2 separate regions of the Homo sapiens genome follow, and region 2 is linked to region 1. Evidence: fine-mapped expression QTL. Tissue or cell type: whole blood. Region 1 holds a variant in brackets; the other region holds the start of a gene. All regions are shown on one strand. Distances are from middle to middle.

Region 1 (8,104 bases):
GAATTCCGAAACTTCATATCAAACCCCCCTAATAATTTTCTATTTTCTAGTTTTGCACTTCAAATTTAAAAGGCATTCTTTTCTATCATAGCTTCCTGCTGATTACAAGAGAGCCCTCGTCTTCATTTTCTAACCCTAATCAGCTAGAAAATTCTCCCTGACTCTCTTCTGCCACAGTCCTCACTGGGCAGATTCTCAATGAGGAAATGTAAAGGAGGTCATTTTCAACGAGGCTGCAGGGAGAGGGTGTCTGCTTTGCCAGCTGTGTTCTAGTTGGAAGTTCCCAGGCATGTGTGACTTTAAAGTTAGGCAAGATAAACATTTTCTTTGCAACAATACAGCATTGACAGTGGGTCCAGCATTTTCAGTGATTCTTGCTGTCATGTGGGAACTCTTATTTCTGTTTTGTTTTTTTTTTTTGGAGACAGAGTCTCGCTCTGTCACCCAGGCTGGAGTGCAGTGGTGCAATCTCAGCTCACTGCAACCTCTGGCTCCCTTGTTCAAGCAATTCTCCTGCCTTAGCCTCCTGAGTAGCTGGGATTACAGGTGCACGCTGCCACGCCTGGCTATTTTTTTGTATTTTAGTAGAGACAAGGTTTCACCGTGTTGCCCAGGCTGGTCTCGAACTCCTGAGCTCCGGCAATCCACCTGCCTTGGCCTTCCAAAGTGCTAGGATTACAGGAGTGAGGCACCGCACCCAGCCAGGAACTCTAATTTCTAACTCTTGATATTTGCACTGTTAAGAAATGAGCATGATTAACGTAACTCCCGATGTCTCCTTTTCCTTCCATATGGAGGGAATTTTATTAGAAGTCTTTCTCTGCTCCTTTATTAAATCTCTCTGGGGGCGGAAGTGACTTATCTGATTGGCAAATATGAAAAAATGAAGCAGGCAGGCTGAGTTTGGTTCCTTGTCTTTATCTTGAGAGTGAACCTGTTTGTAGGAACATGAGTTCTCTGCTTCTCCACGTCCTAAAGCTAATCTGGGCAGACCCCTCTCCATATAGACCCAGTGTCCTGTCCCACTCCAGCTGCTGGGACGGGGTAGTTAAGTCAGTTCAACTTTAGGGTTTAAGTTTAGTAAGCCTACTTACCCAAGGATATAAGCCATGCCCTCCAACCTAGCCTTTGTGACAGCTTGATGTTTCATTCACCCCTTTTGGACAGTGAAGGGGTTGTCATTATTGAATTACACTCAAATACCCCAAGACTTGTAAGAGAAGGCAGTGGGCATGCATTGAATTCTCAGTCCTATCAATTAACTAGAGTGTGACTATGGATCTACCACCTGATCTTTCTGAACCCCATCTGTAAAATGATAGGAAAATCATTATGGAGAGTAATGATACCAGCATCATTGAGCAGGTGTGAGTATCAAATGAGTAATAAATACCAGATAGCTTGGCCAACTGTGATGACCTTTATAAAGTGAGCCATGCCTAAAAACACTGTAACAAGGTCTTTGGTAAACATATACAATGCACACATGCACGTAGAGATCCAAGCTATTTACATGACATCTGTTCACTTAGCGCTTCATAGATCATTGTCCACTTCATAGTCTTGGCTCTGGAACTAGCCCTAGCAAGACTTAGTAGCAGGTGAAGGCACCACTTTGTTGGATGTCACATGAATGTGGTGAGGTGGCTGACAGCATAGATTCTGATGCCAAACAGAACTAGTTTGTCTTCCAGGTCTGCCACTCACTAGCTGGGTGTCTGTGGGTGAATTACTTCATACTTCACTCTTCTTAGTCTTGACTTCTTCTTTTTTCTTTTTTTCTTTTTTTTTTTTTTTTGAGACGGAGTCTCGCTCTGTGGCCAGGCTGGAGTGCAGTGGCACAATCTCGGCTCACTGCAACCTCCGCCTGCCAGGTTCATGTGATTCTCCTGCCTCAGCCTCCCAAGTAGCTGAGACTACAGGTGCGTGTCACCATGCCCAGTTTAGTCTTGAATTCTTTGTCTGAAAAATAAGAATAATAATAACTGATGGTGATAATGAAACCTGCTTTGTAGGGTTATTATAAGGAGCAAATGAAGGAAGGCATGGGATGAATCCAATACAAGTTTGGGCACATCATAGGCATCTATTACATGCTAACAGGCATTATGATGTCTACCCACCACCTCCATCATGGCACCTATGACACACAACTCCCAGGCTGGTCCGGATTCTCACCATAGCTCCTTGTCTGAGCCCAGCCTCCTTCTTAGCCTTTGTAGCCCACTCCTCTCAGCAACTCATATGTTCTCAATTCCTCCAGTCAACCACCCCATCCCACCCCACCATGCCCTGTTTACCCCAAGCTCCTGGCAGATGAACAGGAACTATGCTCATTTATTTATTTATTCAGTAAGTGCATACTGGGCAACTCCTCCATGCCAAACCCTGGGTGGGAGTTGGGGTCACAGAGGCAAATCAGCCTCATTCTCCCATTCTTGAGGAGCTCACTCATGAGTGAGTAATGAACACAAATGGCTCCACTCCATGGCAAGATGTGAAGGGGAAACTCCAGAGGGACAGGCAGTGCCTTGTGAGCACAGGACATGGTTCTTTCCAAGGAGGTCACATTTAACTAGAACTTCAAAGGCAGGAGGTGCTGAGGAGGAGCTTGCAAAACAAAGGAAATGGTGAGGAAAAGTACTAAGATAAACAAAGGCATGGAGGAAGGAAATGACAAGGATTGTGAGATGAAAGGTTATAGCAATCCAGAGCCTAGAGTGCTTAGGAGGAGACCACCAAGAAGAACTTTGTAATCAGAGGTAAGGTTGGGCAGGTGAGTTGAAGTTAGGCTTTGCAGAGCCCTGGATTTTGTCCCCAGGACTCGCATGTGCTGTGGGAGTCCATTAAAGGTCTTTGCACCAGAGCATGCAGGAATGAGGGCAGCTCCTTAGGACAATGATGCAATCAAGTAGGAAGAATGGATTGTGGAAGGGTGGGGAGGACCAGAAACCTTCTGAAGACCAGTTGGCAGTAAGAGCATCATCACAGTTTTCTAACTTATACAAGAAGTGGCTACTGAGTTCCGTATGTCAGGCAGAACCTGTGTCTTTGGATAGGACACTTGAACCTTCCCGGGCCTCTGTTTCTTCATCTGTGAATGAAGGATGTCAATATTCAGGAACAAAGCCTATGCCTCTGGCGTCAGATCTTGGGCATGGGTTGTTCCTGCTGCTTTCTGGAGTCTTCTGCCGCCTTTGCGACGCACTCCCTAGGACCCTGCTCGGTCCAGCCAACTCTTCTGAACTTGAGGACTGACAATATCTCCTCATCCTTCCCCAAGCTCCACTAGATTGTCATGTCCTGAGGACAGAGGCAGACATGTCCATATCATCTGGACATGCCTAGTAGGTGCTTGCC[T/C]TGAAATTGAATGTCACGTGAATGTCAGCATTCTCTGAAAAGGCATATTCTCCAGTCAGATGAGGAGCCATGGGTGCCCGGGATTTCATCTATCGAGCCTTTACTTCATGCATAGAAACTGTGGCTGGGGTCTCTCTCTTTTTTTTTTTTTTTTTTTTGTCCTTATTTACAATTGTGATGTTTTTTATTTTATGAGTTTTTTTCTTTCCTTTTTTTTTTTTAATCATATTTTAAGTTCTAGGGTACACATGCACAACGTGCAGGTTTGTTACATATGTATACATGTGCCACGTTGGTGTGCTGCATTAACTCGTCATTTACATTAGGTATATCTCCTAATGCTATCCCTCCCCTGTCCCCCCACCCCACAACAGGCCCCGGTGTGTGATGTTCCCCTTCCTGTGTTCAAGTGTTCTCATTGTTCAATTCCCACCTATGAGTGAAAACATGCAGTGTTTGGTTTTTTGTTCTTGCAATAGTTTGCTGAGAATGATGGTTTTGGCTGGGGTCTTTAATGACCTTTGCTTAGCCCTCCAAGAGGCTTAGGAAATGGATGTTTGTGCTCTCATGTTCCCAATGACCAAGCTGAGGGCCAGAAAGATAAGGCATTTGCCTAAGGTCACAAAGTAAGGACACAGCAGAGCTGGGACCAAACACAGATGGGGCTGTCTCCTCACCAGTATTCTTTCAGCTACATCCCACATCAGACTCACATTGGCCCCCATCCCCACCCAGCACCTCTCATTCTCTAGGGCTTTTGAGTGGCCCCTGCATATCTCAGGATCCTCAGCATGATGGTTCTCCCCACCTCAAAGAGAATGGCAGCAACATGATCTGGGGATGAATTAGCACATGAATGCATCTCGTCCATCACCCACTCCCAAAGGAAAAACAAAATATTAAACATGCTCTGTGTGCCCTTTCCTATCCTGGTGGAGAACAACAATTAAAACTTCTCATTGCAGGAGTTGCCCTAGAGAAAAATGAAAGGAAATTGAATGTGAAAATGAGGGGAGAGCGGGATCTCCATAGAGGATCTGGGTAACTTCAAGACTATTCAGAGAGACGATCATTTTAAAGCAGGCTTAGCTGGCAGTCTTCAGATGAAAACTCAAGAGCAAGCCCAAAACATTTCTGGAATGGTCAGTGAACAAAGGCTTTTCTAATATAAAATAAGTATGTGTGTGTATATATATATGTGTATATATATATGTGTGTGTGTGTATATATGTCTACAAACACACATATATACTTATATATGTTATATATAAACACATATACATATATAAACGTGTATACATATATACTTACATATAAGGGTTTATAAACTTACAAGTGTTTTATATATATAAATACTTATATGTATGTTCTTGTGTATATACAGACACTTATAGAAATGCTTTCTAACTTAAAACATAAGAGATGTTCATTAAAGAAAATCCTGGAAGTAAAAAAGGAGAAATCTTCTTTGGTCCTACCCCCTTGCTTCTTTCCCTTGCCTGGTAAACAGGTTGTATTAGTCTATTCTTGTATTGCTATAAAAGATACCCAAGACTGGGTAATTTATAAAGAAAAGAGGTTTAATTCCCTCATGATTCTGCAGGCTGCACAGGAAGCATAGCGGCTTATTGGGAGGCCTCAGGAAACTTTTAATCATGGTGGAAGGTAAAGAGGAAGCAGGTATGTCTCACATGGCTGTAGCAGAAGGAAAAGCCCAGGTCGGGGGTGCCATATGCCTTTAAATCACCAGATCTCCTGGGAACTCTATTACAAGAACAGCACTAGGGGGATGTGTTAAACCAGGAGAAATTGCCCCCATTATCCAATCACCTACCACTGGGTCCCACCTCCAGCACTGGGGATTGCATTTCAACTTGAGGTCTGGGTGGGGACACAGATCCAGGCCATACCACAGGTCCTCTCCAAAAGAGAGTCCAAAAGGTAACAACTGATTCCCTTCATTCCATTTATTTTTTCACATACTCAAAACTATGACTTCATAGGGAAAGGAGGTGTTTAGTTAGCACCTACAATGTGCCAGGCAAGTGGCATTGCTTTGCCTTTGCTACCTCATTTAATTCTCACAGCAATGCTGGGAGGTCAGTATCATTATCCGTGTTTTAGGGTTGAGGAAACTAAAACTCAGAGTGGTTCAGAAACGTACTCAAGTCACACAGCTTCCAAGCGGTGAAGCTGAGATTCCCACTTGGCTCTAACTACAGGCCCCCCATTACCTCAAAGGAAGCAATGTGGAAAAACATGAAGACTTGGCTGCCACTCCCAATTGCTCCCAGCGTTACAGGGCAGGTGAGATGTGCATGGCATTGACCAGAAGCCCAGACAAAATGCTGTAACTGTATGAAGTTTCATTAAAATCCTTTGCGAATGTACAAAAGGAGCATATTACTTTTAGTTGGAGAGAGGCAAACGGAGATTAGATTAATGGAAGGGGTGACATTTGAACTGGTCCTAAAAAAGGGGGTGGGATTTTAAAGGGCATACTGGGGGAGGTAGAAGACTTTCTAGGCAGAAGTAACAGCCTGAAGAAAGAAAAAGAGTTAGAACACTCAGAAGCCATGGACAGGAGATAGACTCCTTCGGCTGGAACTTGAAGATGTGTGAATAGAAGATACAGACAATGAAGCTGGAAATGAGGTTGGAAGCAGATACTGAAGGGCATAGAATGCTTGGTTAAGGGTTCGAACTTCTGTTGTTGAGCAGAAAAATGGTATGCTCTGAGTAACAGTTTAAGGGAATCACTGTAGGAGCACCTTGAAGGCAGAATGGAGGGAGTGGGGGCAGCTTTCCATGGTAGGAAAACCAGGCAGGCTGCAGTTACTGTAACAGAGCAGAGGCCCATGAGGGTGAAGTGGTAATAGTATTGGGGAGACACGAAGAGGAGAGCACTGGACTGTGAGATATATCAAAGATAGAAATGATGAGGCTTGTGTTGGGGAGATTTCTGACTTGAGTTATTGAATAGGTGGTGGGCCATTAACTGGGAGAGGGAGCACAGGAAGGGAAGCAGGCTTCAGGGACAATGCAATGAAATCAATTTTTGTCCAGTTGAGTTCACGGTGATTGTGTGACATCTGGGTGAGATGTTGAGTGAGTAGGTGGAGGTATACCTCAAGCACTGGAGATGCTGGCTGACACCTTCCAGCACATTATATCGCAAACCCAGCGGGGGCCTTGGAAGTCATCTATTCTAGCCTCATCATCCCTGCAGCAGGCCCTGCAACACCTATGCCTCCAATTCATTGACCTTTCAGTATCTATTCTCTGAGCCACTTCCTTTACTTCCTCATCCCTGGGACCTTCCTCCCTCTGAAGTCATAATGTCTAGTATTAGATACTCTGATCTAACTATCCCATCTTCTCAAGACTTTATTTCATATTGGCCTTATCAGCACTCTTCCCCCTTCAGCCTGTCCTTTTTCTCCCAGTCTTTGGGATTGTTTGTGCCCATTTTTCATCCCTCTGGTGCTTTTACTCCACATGGACTTTCTAAGCCATTCTTTCACCAACATCCTTAATTCCCTTGCTCCTCTCTTGTGCCCTGCAACCAGCTGATGAAACTCCATCACTCCATCAATGCAGTGCCCCACCTTCTCTATTTCTATGCTAGATTGCCAAGCATGAGGAAAATCATGCAACTACATTGATCAAATATACTAAAATTAATGGTCTTTCCTCAGTTGGGCTCCCTACTCTGTTGTCAAAACCTTCCACTTGTCCTTTTTCAACTCTCTAATTCCATCTTTGCTCTTGTTGTTCCATAAATTGTCCCGTCTTTTCCTGCACCTCAGCCTCCCCTTCTTCACTGGCTCCATACTTAGATCTTTCTCACTTCAGTTGTCATCCCATCTCTCATATTTTTCTCTTCCCAACTTGTCAAAGGACTTGCCTTCCATGACATTCACTGACTTCCATTCACTTCCAAGCCCATTAAAATCAGCCTTCCTTCCCACTGCCCTCCTGGAACCACTCTCAGAAAGGTATCAGGGAGCTTCCAACAGCCAATGGCCACATCCTTCCTCCATGCCTCATCTCACTATGCCTGTCTCTTAGATTTGACTCTGTGAGTCACTGTACTTTTCTTAAATCTCCTACCACCATGACTTCTATGGAGCAACAGCTTCTGGTTTATCTCATACCACTTTCATTCTTTCTCAAAATTCTTCATAGGTACCTCCTCCTCTTTCTGCCCCTTGAAGTTATTCCTTAACGTTTTAGTAGTAGACCATGACTCTTTTAACTTTACACATACGCTTGTCTGGGGGCTCTTATTCAAATCACCAACTAAATACAGACAACTCCAAAGACTGTATCATCAACCCGAACTTCTTCCATGAGCCAGACTCAAATCTATCTGCATACCTGATCTATTCCTTGACATACCATTGACTCCTCAAAGTCAACATATCAAAGTGCTCTTTCTCTTAGTTGATGACATGACCATCAACCTGATTTAACCTGGAAGTCATCCTTGACTCTTCCTTCCCTCACTCATCACATCCAATAGATTTCCAGGTTCTGATTGTTTTATGTCCTAAATGTCTCTGAAACTGCTTACTTCCTAATATCTCCTAGTGCTCTGTGTATCCTTAGCATCTCTCCCCTGAATTCCTGTAACCCTTGCTTCACTGGTCTCCTATACACAGCCTTGTTTCCTTCAAATCCATTCTCCACACTGTTAAAGATAAATCCTATAGAATCACTCTCTTCTTTAAGACCTTTCAAA
Region 2 (8,104 bases), 120 kb before region 1:
GGTACCAATACACACACATATACATGCAAACGTACACACCCATTGCATATATGTAAACCCAGACCCAGCAAATGGAAATAATTTGCCCAAGGCCACAAAGCCAATGAACAACTGAGTCGGGAATAAACCCCAGGTTTCCTGGCCTACGGAAGCTGTTGTTTTCCTCACACTCCGATCAGTCCAGGTGTGCATCCTCACTGATGCAGAAATGCCACAGCACTCAGGCTGTGTCCCCATGATGCTAAGTGTGGCAGCTGCAATCATGAGGGCATGGTCTCAAGCCCTGACTTAGAAGAGTAAGCAAACAAGGGAAATGTCTCATCACTGTTATTTACTTACGATACATAACCCTCTTGTTCTCCCAAAAGAAATCCAAGGCACTTAAAACATATTTTAACATGAGGCCATTATATGTATGGTGTGGAAGAGTTCAGCTTAGAGATCTTACAGAAAAAAAAAAACTGGATTTAAGACAAAGAAAAACTGAAAAGGAAGAATTTATTCTCGATGGCTTATTTTCACACGGGGAGAAAAAAGGCAAAAAATATGAGAAAACTAATGAATTAAAAAATAAATATCAGTAACAAGAGTAATGTTTTGTGATGTAATCCAGCTTTGGCTATGAGTAGTATGATCTATGACACAAAAATCGTTATTTCATAATTACCTCAGCATTTTCAAAAGCAACTTAATGAAGATTGTTTCTCTGCATTCATTTTTATTCAAAACCTTACCAGTTAATCATGAGAAGCTAAAACACACAATGCTGGGAGATTAATATCCCTACATAAGATGCATTATTTTTCCTTTGCAGATCCCTATGAGCCTGTCAAAAATGAAAGCTTTGCTCTGGTTTTGTGAATTTCAAACAGTCACAAAACCCGCTGAGAGCCGAGTTTCTGGGAAAAAGGTGGGACATGCCCGTTTCATTTGGGATTCGGCAACACTTTAAGAGGTTCATTAATCCACATCTTAAAAAGACCAATGACAACCCCATTAACGACCCATAGGTCAAAGTGATGGATTTAGCTCTAATCCACAGCCAAAAACTAACTCAGGGTCTGAACATCCTTCAGCCCACCTTCCCTGTCCCAGCCCCTCTGCAGCCAAGCTAAGGCCGGCTCCACGCATCGCTAATATACTCAGCAAACAATGCAGTTGGAAGAGTCTAAAAAAAAAATCACTTTATTTATTTGCAGTAATTGTTTGTGCTGGGAATGTTTTACCTATGCAAATATGATTGATTATTTTTGGAGGGGCAGGAAAAGCTCACCAGCTTGCTGCTTTCTAGCCTGCTGGGCATCTTCTTAATGCATTGTATGTCATCAGTTCTTAGGAGCTAATGTCATCTCTCCTACTGAAAGGCCTAACCTATCCCACAACCCCAATCTGGTAGCTTGGAACATTTTATAGCCACTATGTGTTAGCCCAGTAAATAATCTATTAAGCACAGCTCGAGCTTCACCTCTTTTGGGCTGAACCTGAATCTCACAGCTCCCTGGAAACCAAGTCCTCTTCTTGGAAATCAACAACCCATTCAGTGTAGAATGTTCGTCCAAATGACTGGACTAAGACATCCTAGCTCAAGCCTGTAACTTACTAGTTTTGTCACTCAGAATCATTTAGCTGAAGGGGGTCTGAAGGGCTGGTCAGTCCACCCTTGCTCTTTACTAACAGAGACACAGAGGCCCCTACTGCTAAGGGACTTTCTCTGCACCAACACAAATGTACGTGTAGACAACTGAGCTCAACACTGTGACTTCACCAATGGAACAAGCCCCTCAGACCAGGATCAATTGATTCCAGGTGGCTTGCCCCTTCAGGAACTAAATGCACTTAAGCAAACAGTTAACTAAATGCACTTAAGCAAACAGTTAACTAAATGCACTTAAGCAAACAGCTAACAGCGGCAAGCCAGAGAACTGGGGGCATGCATCAGGCATCGTATCTGCATTAAAACTCCTTTTCTTTGGGGCTCAGAAGTGTTTGGGGCTCAGAAGTTCTGCTGACACTGAGGGCTGGCAAATATGAGCCAACACTGGGCCAGCCCCTGCACAGTGGCCATCTGGGATCAGCCCCCGCTCCGGTTAAGTAATCATCTCCAAGATTTACAAAACCAGGGGCAGGTAACCTTGATGAGCCCTGCCCCCAGGGAAAGGTTAAGGATGCAGTTCTGAGGCCTAGCATGTGCTGGGCACACAGGAGGAACCACTGTCCTTTCCATCCTTCAGGAGGACTGGGAAAACAGAACCCCAGGAAAGAGAACACCTAGGAAAACATATTATCCTCTCACCTGAACTAAAAAGTAGAGTACACATTAGGGGTTGGCAGCAGCGTGATGGCAGGATGGACAAAAAGTGCTTGCTACAGGCAATTTATTTCATCAGAACAGATACTCATTGGAGCAAGTATTTTCACACACACGCAATGACTCTCGAGACGGAAGCAGTTAGTAGAAGAAATGAGACAGGTGTGTTTGTTACAAAGGGAACAGTCTGGCAGGGAAGTAGGGTACCCTGGTTTCCAATCCTGGTCTCCCACTTCCTAACCTTGTGACCTTGATTAAGTCATTCAACCTCTCTAAGCCTCAGTTTCCTCATCTGGGCCAAGGAGAAACGGGGACCTATTTCCCAGAGCGGCTTTGAGGCACACTGCCCGGCACGGCCTGGACACCCACTAAATAAGAGTTGTTGCCCCCAAATGCTAAGTCTGAACCTAGCTGCATACACATGCCGTTATCTAGACCAGACAGGTCTCCCGCCTGCATGTCAAACCCACATCTTTCTCCAGAAGGCAGAAGAAAGCACCAGGTCTGCCCGGGCAGTTCAGCCTCCAGGCGGGGCTTCGGGGCAGGGGAAATTGAACGATTCAATCGGAAGCCCCGAATGTTTCCAGGCTGTAAGTGGGGAAGGAGGGTAGGACAGGGGCCCTGAGGCGGCCTCCGGGCCCTGCGAAGGGAGCTTTGTTCGCGAGGCGGAGGGCCTGGCTTACCGAGAAGCGCATCCGGAGGCGGTTGAGGGGCGCGCGGGGCACGCAGCAGAGCCGCAGCCCGGCCCGGACCCGGAGCGCCGGAGCCGCAGGAAGGCGAGGAGAAGGAAAAAAAGGAGGCTGCCGCCGGCTCCTGCCTCATTCTCCCGGGCAGCGTTGACCCGCTGGCCGCCGCCGGATAGGGCTGGCCGCCGGGCGCGGGACCCCGTGCGCGCTGCTCATGTCCCCGTCTGCCGCTGGCTAGGTGTGCGCGCAGCCTGCTGGTCTCTGGGCGGCACCCGGGGGCTCCTCATGCCCCGCGCCGGGGCTCGGCGGGAGGACCTCGGAGAGGCAGCGCGGAGGGAAAGAGAGAGAGACAGCATGAGAACGCGCAGAGCTGCACCCCGCGGGGGCCGGGCGCCAGCAGCACCGCGCTGCCCCACCCACGGCGCGTCTGCTCCCCGCGCTGCGCGCCCAGCGGGGCGCCGAGCCCCAGAAACTTTAGCACATGGCCGGTCCGGCGGCCACGGTGGCCGTAGCTGCCCTGCTCTTCGAGCGCCCCCCACTGCTTCCTGCCCCAAGCCCCAGAGCGCAGCTTACCAGCGGCGACCGCGACCGCAGCGGCGGGGCGCCCACCCGGCCGCAAGCACAGCAGTGCGCACCTGCGGGAAAGGAGGAAGGGGCTGGCGGCGTCGGGGTCCCTACAGGGGAGGGGCACCTCGGCGGCAGCAATCGGCGCAGGTTAAGGCATTCTGGGCCGGGGCTGCGCGCGAGCCAGGTGGTGGCAGGCCGGGATTGGGGAGGGTCTCTGCGCCCCCCGCCCCGCGGCGCCGCTGCTGATGACGCGCGCGGGCTTCCCCGGCCCCGCGTCTGCGGAGCCAGCCCCGTTACCTAGCGACTCGCTCCGGGGAGCCCCCGCTGACGCGCGCTGCGAGCCGGGCTGCGGCAGCCGAGGGGCGGGGAGGGAGGGGAGGGGGAGCTCCAGTGCGGGGAGGGCCGGCGGCTGCGGGCCAAGCTCCTCCCTCCGCTTCCCTCTCCGCGTTGGGGAGGGGGCCCGGGAAAGACGTGGCCTCCGCCTGGCCCTGGAGGATGGGAGGCCTTCGCGGGGCGGGGGGGACGGAGGGAGGCACTGAGTGCCCCTGTCCCCGCAGTGGGGATGCAGCAGCAGGTGGCGGCTATGTGGCCTGTGGAGGCTCGGCACCCAGAGGCGCGCGGTGAGCCCGCCCCGGCGGGAGCGTGGCGAATGTGGCTTTGGGCGCGCGGGTGTGTGGGACACGCTCCCACCCACGTGGCGTACATGGGGACCTGGGGACGCGGGTGAAAGAGGCGCCTCCTCCTTCCTCTGGTCTCTCTCCCTCCTTCCTGGACATTTTGCTCCTGCGCTGTCTCTTTCTTCATCATGGAAGCCCAGGTTGCTCCGTTCCCCACTCCCAGCTCCTTATATCTTCCAGGGAACAGGCGGATGGCCTGGCAGCTGAAGGTAGTTAAGTCGTGGTCAAACCACTATACCCCCAATCCCTGCCGCCCTTTGGCGCCTCCCCAGCCCATCCCCATGTCCAGTTGCCCGCCTTGTAGGCCCTCTAACCTGCCTCGGGGCGCCTTCCACTTTCTTGGAAGACTTGGGACCTCTGACACAGACTGGGGTTCAAATCCAGGCCCCTCCAATTGCTTTCAGTACACAGGACATTTTAACGTCTTCAGGAAGATGGAGTCCTTGTCTCCAAAGGTCATAGCTAAGTACTAGTACCTAAGGCCTTCCATGAATGTGAACATGATTTTCTAGAAGATAAGCAGCCTGTCTCCTGGTTCTCTGGGACCTCACCAAAATCCACCCCAACGTCCAGGGAAGTAAGGCAAGTGCCGGGAAACATGGTCAGAGCAAGCAGCGACCATGGTCTCTATCGACGAGGAGGCAAATTGCCCAGGTCTGCTGGGTGCCTCAGAAGCAGAGCTGGGGGAAGAACCCAGACATCCTGGTTAGCAGGTTCCCAGGGCCCACCGCTGTGCCCCTTCCCCAGTTGGATGGTGCAAGGAACCTTCTGCCCCTACTTCTCAGAAGATCCTCCTGCCTACCAAAAGGCTGCTTCCCTCCCATCCCTGCTACAGAATAGGAATCACCTACCACCTCGTCCACAACACCAACCCATACCCTCCCTAGCTGGCCTTTCTGTCTTCCTCATGGTATGGATGTGGGGAGAAAGATGCAGAGGAGAGACTCAGCAGAGATTTAGGGGAATCAGGCCTGCCCAGGAACACCCACACCCCAGCCCTGCAGCTCTACAGGACAGAGTCCCTCCATGAGGGGCTTTGGGAAACAGCAGAGTCTGAGTGGTTTTTGTTGGCTTAGTGACAAGACATTTCCTCCAATTATTATTATTATTGAGATGCCAGTAACTCCTATTGAAAAACCCTGCAAGTCCATGGAAACAGAAACCTGTGTCTTAAGAAACCAGGGTCCAAAGGCCACACTTTTCTGAGAAAAGCACTTTGCATCCCAGCCTGTGTATAACAGTTGCATTCCAACATTTTCCGGCGAAATTGGGAGCAATATCTCTGAATTTCCCAACCAGTTATTATGGGTAGTTGCAGACAGGGAGGTGGTCCCCAGAAACTCCAGAAGAACTATTTCTGTGTGCCAAATTGGCTGCCGGCTCTTTCTTCAGCCCCAATTTCCCAATCTGCAGGTAGAGTTTGACACCTAATTTGGTCAGGGAGCCCAGTGCTTACAATAAATGAAACCTCAGAGCTTGGATTCCATGCGTCCCACTATTCCAGGAAACAAAGCAGCCTGTAAGGAAGTGCGATTTGACGGCACAAGTGTCTCATTCATGGTTTGCAGAGATTTGAAAAATGTTGTTTAAGCATAGCAAAAGCTGGCACATACATCTTTTATTGGTGTGTGTATGCATGGGGAAAAAGGCAGCAGGGAAGACTCCTACATTGCATATTCATTCTTCATGTTTTTCTCAAATAATAGGAAGTGGGGAGTGCACAGGAAAGCCAGGATTGAGGAAGCCCATGATCCCTGTGGCCACACAGGGATTGTTCCTCAGCAATGCAGTGGAAGAACATCACCCTAAATTTGTAAGGAGTATCTACTGAAGTCAGGCACAGTGTTAGGCACCAGGGATGCAAAAATGACTTACATAAGTCCTCTGTCTTCTGGGTCCTCATAGGGGCTTTTACTGAGGGCTTAACCCATGCCAGGAACTCCAGGTACCAAGAGTTTTATCTAGGAAAGCTCATTTTAACCTCACCAAACCCTGTAAAGTGGGTCCATTATCTTTGCTTGGGAAGGGAAGCTCAAAAAGGTTATGTAAGTTCCCTAAAGTCATGAAGCTGGCAAATGATGGACTTGGGGATTTGTAACCCAGTCTTCCTAACCCCAAGCCCAAGTTCCTAACTTCCTATACTGTCTGCCAGGCTAAAGGAAAAAAAGAACAATAGTAACATAGGTAGTGGCTGCTTGAGACTTAGGACTGCCAATGAGATGTGTGCGTGGAGTCTCCAGCATAGTTCCTGGAACAGAGTGAGCTATTGATAAAAAGATAGTTATTATCATCGCTAGACCCTCATAGTTGTTGTGTGAATTTTTATGCCCTATCTTATAGAGGTTACCAAATACTATTCTTGGAGGCATAGAGGAAAGTGACTATACCTATCTGCAGGGACTGCAGCTGGCTGCCCAGAGGAGGTGGCATCTGAATTGGGTCCCCAAGGATCCGTAAATATTGGCCAGGTGATAAGGCAGAAGCAAGAACAAGCTAATCAGGAGGAATACGCAGGGGAAATCCCAGAGCTGGTAACAAGCAGCTCTTGTGTGCAGGAGCTGAGAGAGACCCAAGGCAGGTAGACAAGAAGTTGAAGACATGGAGCAAGTCCTAGGGATGCTGAAAGACACAGGTGGAAGAAAAGTCTCAAAAGTGCAGGGACTGCCCTTCTTTTGAGCTCTCAGGGAGGCAAGTAGAGAGGGAGCTAGGGGAGCCCATGCCTCCTGTTAGTGCTGGTTTCCTCCCTGAAGAAGCAGGCAAGGCCATCTGCTGAGTCTGGCCTATGGGGTGGTGAGTGTGAGACAGTGGAGCAGGTAGCTGTAAGAGGATCCAGCCTCCAGACAGCTACCCAAGCCAAGACTTAGTGGCTGTGCTTGACTGAGTCTCCTCCCATCATTCATAAGGACGGTGGGGTCCTGATCCCTACCAGCCTCCACACTTTGCAGGGACGTGGCAAGGCACACAGTATACTTCACCAGTCCCTCTGTGTGAGAGGGCTTGGCAATCGGTAGTGAGTGTAATGTTTGCATGAGACACATAAATAGTACATCTGTTTCCAGCTTTTTGCAGATATTGGCCTATTGCATCCACAATCTATTCATTCATTTGTGCAGTCATTCATTTAATAAGTGTTAATTGAGCACTTATTAGGTCATGTGGTTGCACAAAAGAGAGGCCCTTCCTTGGATCTAGGAGATTGAGGAAGCCTTCCTGGGGTGAGGGGGACTTCTAAAATGAGTCTGAAAGATAAGTGGGAGTCAATCAAATGAAAGGGAAATGGTTTGGGGGTTGGGGAGCAGAAATATTTCAAGTCCAGGAGCAGCACTTGCAAAGACTTTCGAATACTGAAAAATTAGAGCCCACTGAGAAAGGTCAAACCTAATTGTTCCTTTTAGAGAAGAAACACTGTGTGAAGTGCAGTCAGACAGGTGTATGATATTGGGTTGGGGGTAGTAGGACCCAAGAGAGAGAAAGGACTTCCTTAGAAATGGCTCAGGAAAGATTGGAAGCATCCTTCCTTTCTAAAAATTAGTATCTCTACTGTTAATGACTTTTTATTTTTTTACAGTGCTCTGAGGTTTTCAAAACGTCTCATTTCCCACATTTCATTGGCTCTTATCATGTACATGGGGGTTTGATCTGGAGGATTCCTCAGTCTCCAAGCTGATACCTGACGGACCCTGTGACTTGAACCTGGGACTTCCTCCTGGGTGGTCTGGTCCTGCTAATTTTTTTTTTTTTTTTTTTTTTGAGATGGAGTCTCGCTCTGTCACCTAGGCTGGAGTGCAGTGGCATGATCTCGGCTCACTGCAAGCTCCGCCTCCCAGGTTCACGCCATTCTCCTGCCTCAGCTCCCGAGTAGCTGG

What was found. PIP is the estimated chance that this variant, and not a neighbour inherited with it, causes the effect.
Region 2: it holds the start of TUNAR, and the variant in region 1 is fine-mapped to the expression of TUNAR in whole blood (TOPMed, PIP above 0.99).

Annotation. Positions count from the first base shown.
Region 1 is chr14:95,749,103-95,757,206 of GRCh38, reverse strand. LOC107984703 (a long non-coding RNA gene) reads right to left here. Exons shown (of 3, transcript NR_148060.1): 3 at 428-1,962. Among named protein-coding and RNA genes, the nearest start is that of TCL1A, 39 kb to the right of the region's middle. The variant T/C (reference allele first, on the strand shown) is at 3,361.
Region 2 is chr14:95,872,065-95,880,168 of GRCh38, reverse strand. TUNAR (transmembrane neural differentiation associated intracellular calcium regulator) reads right to left here and starts at 3,337. Exons shown (of 2, transcript NM_001416131.1): 1 at 2,992-3,337. The coding sequence starts at 3,003.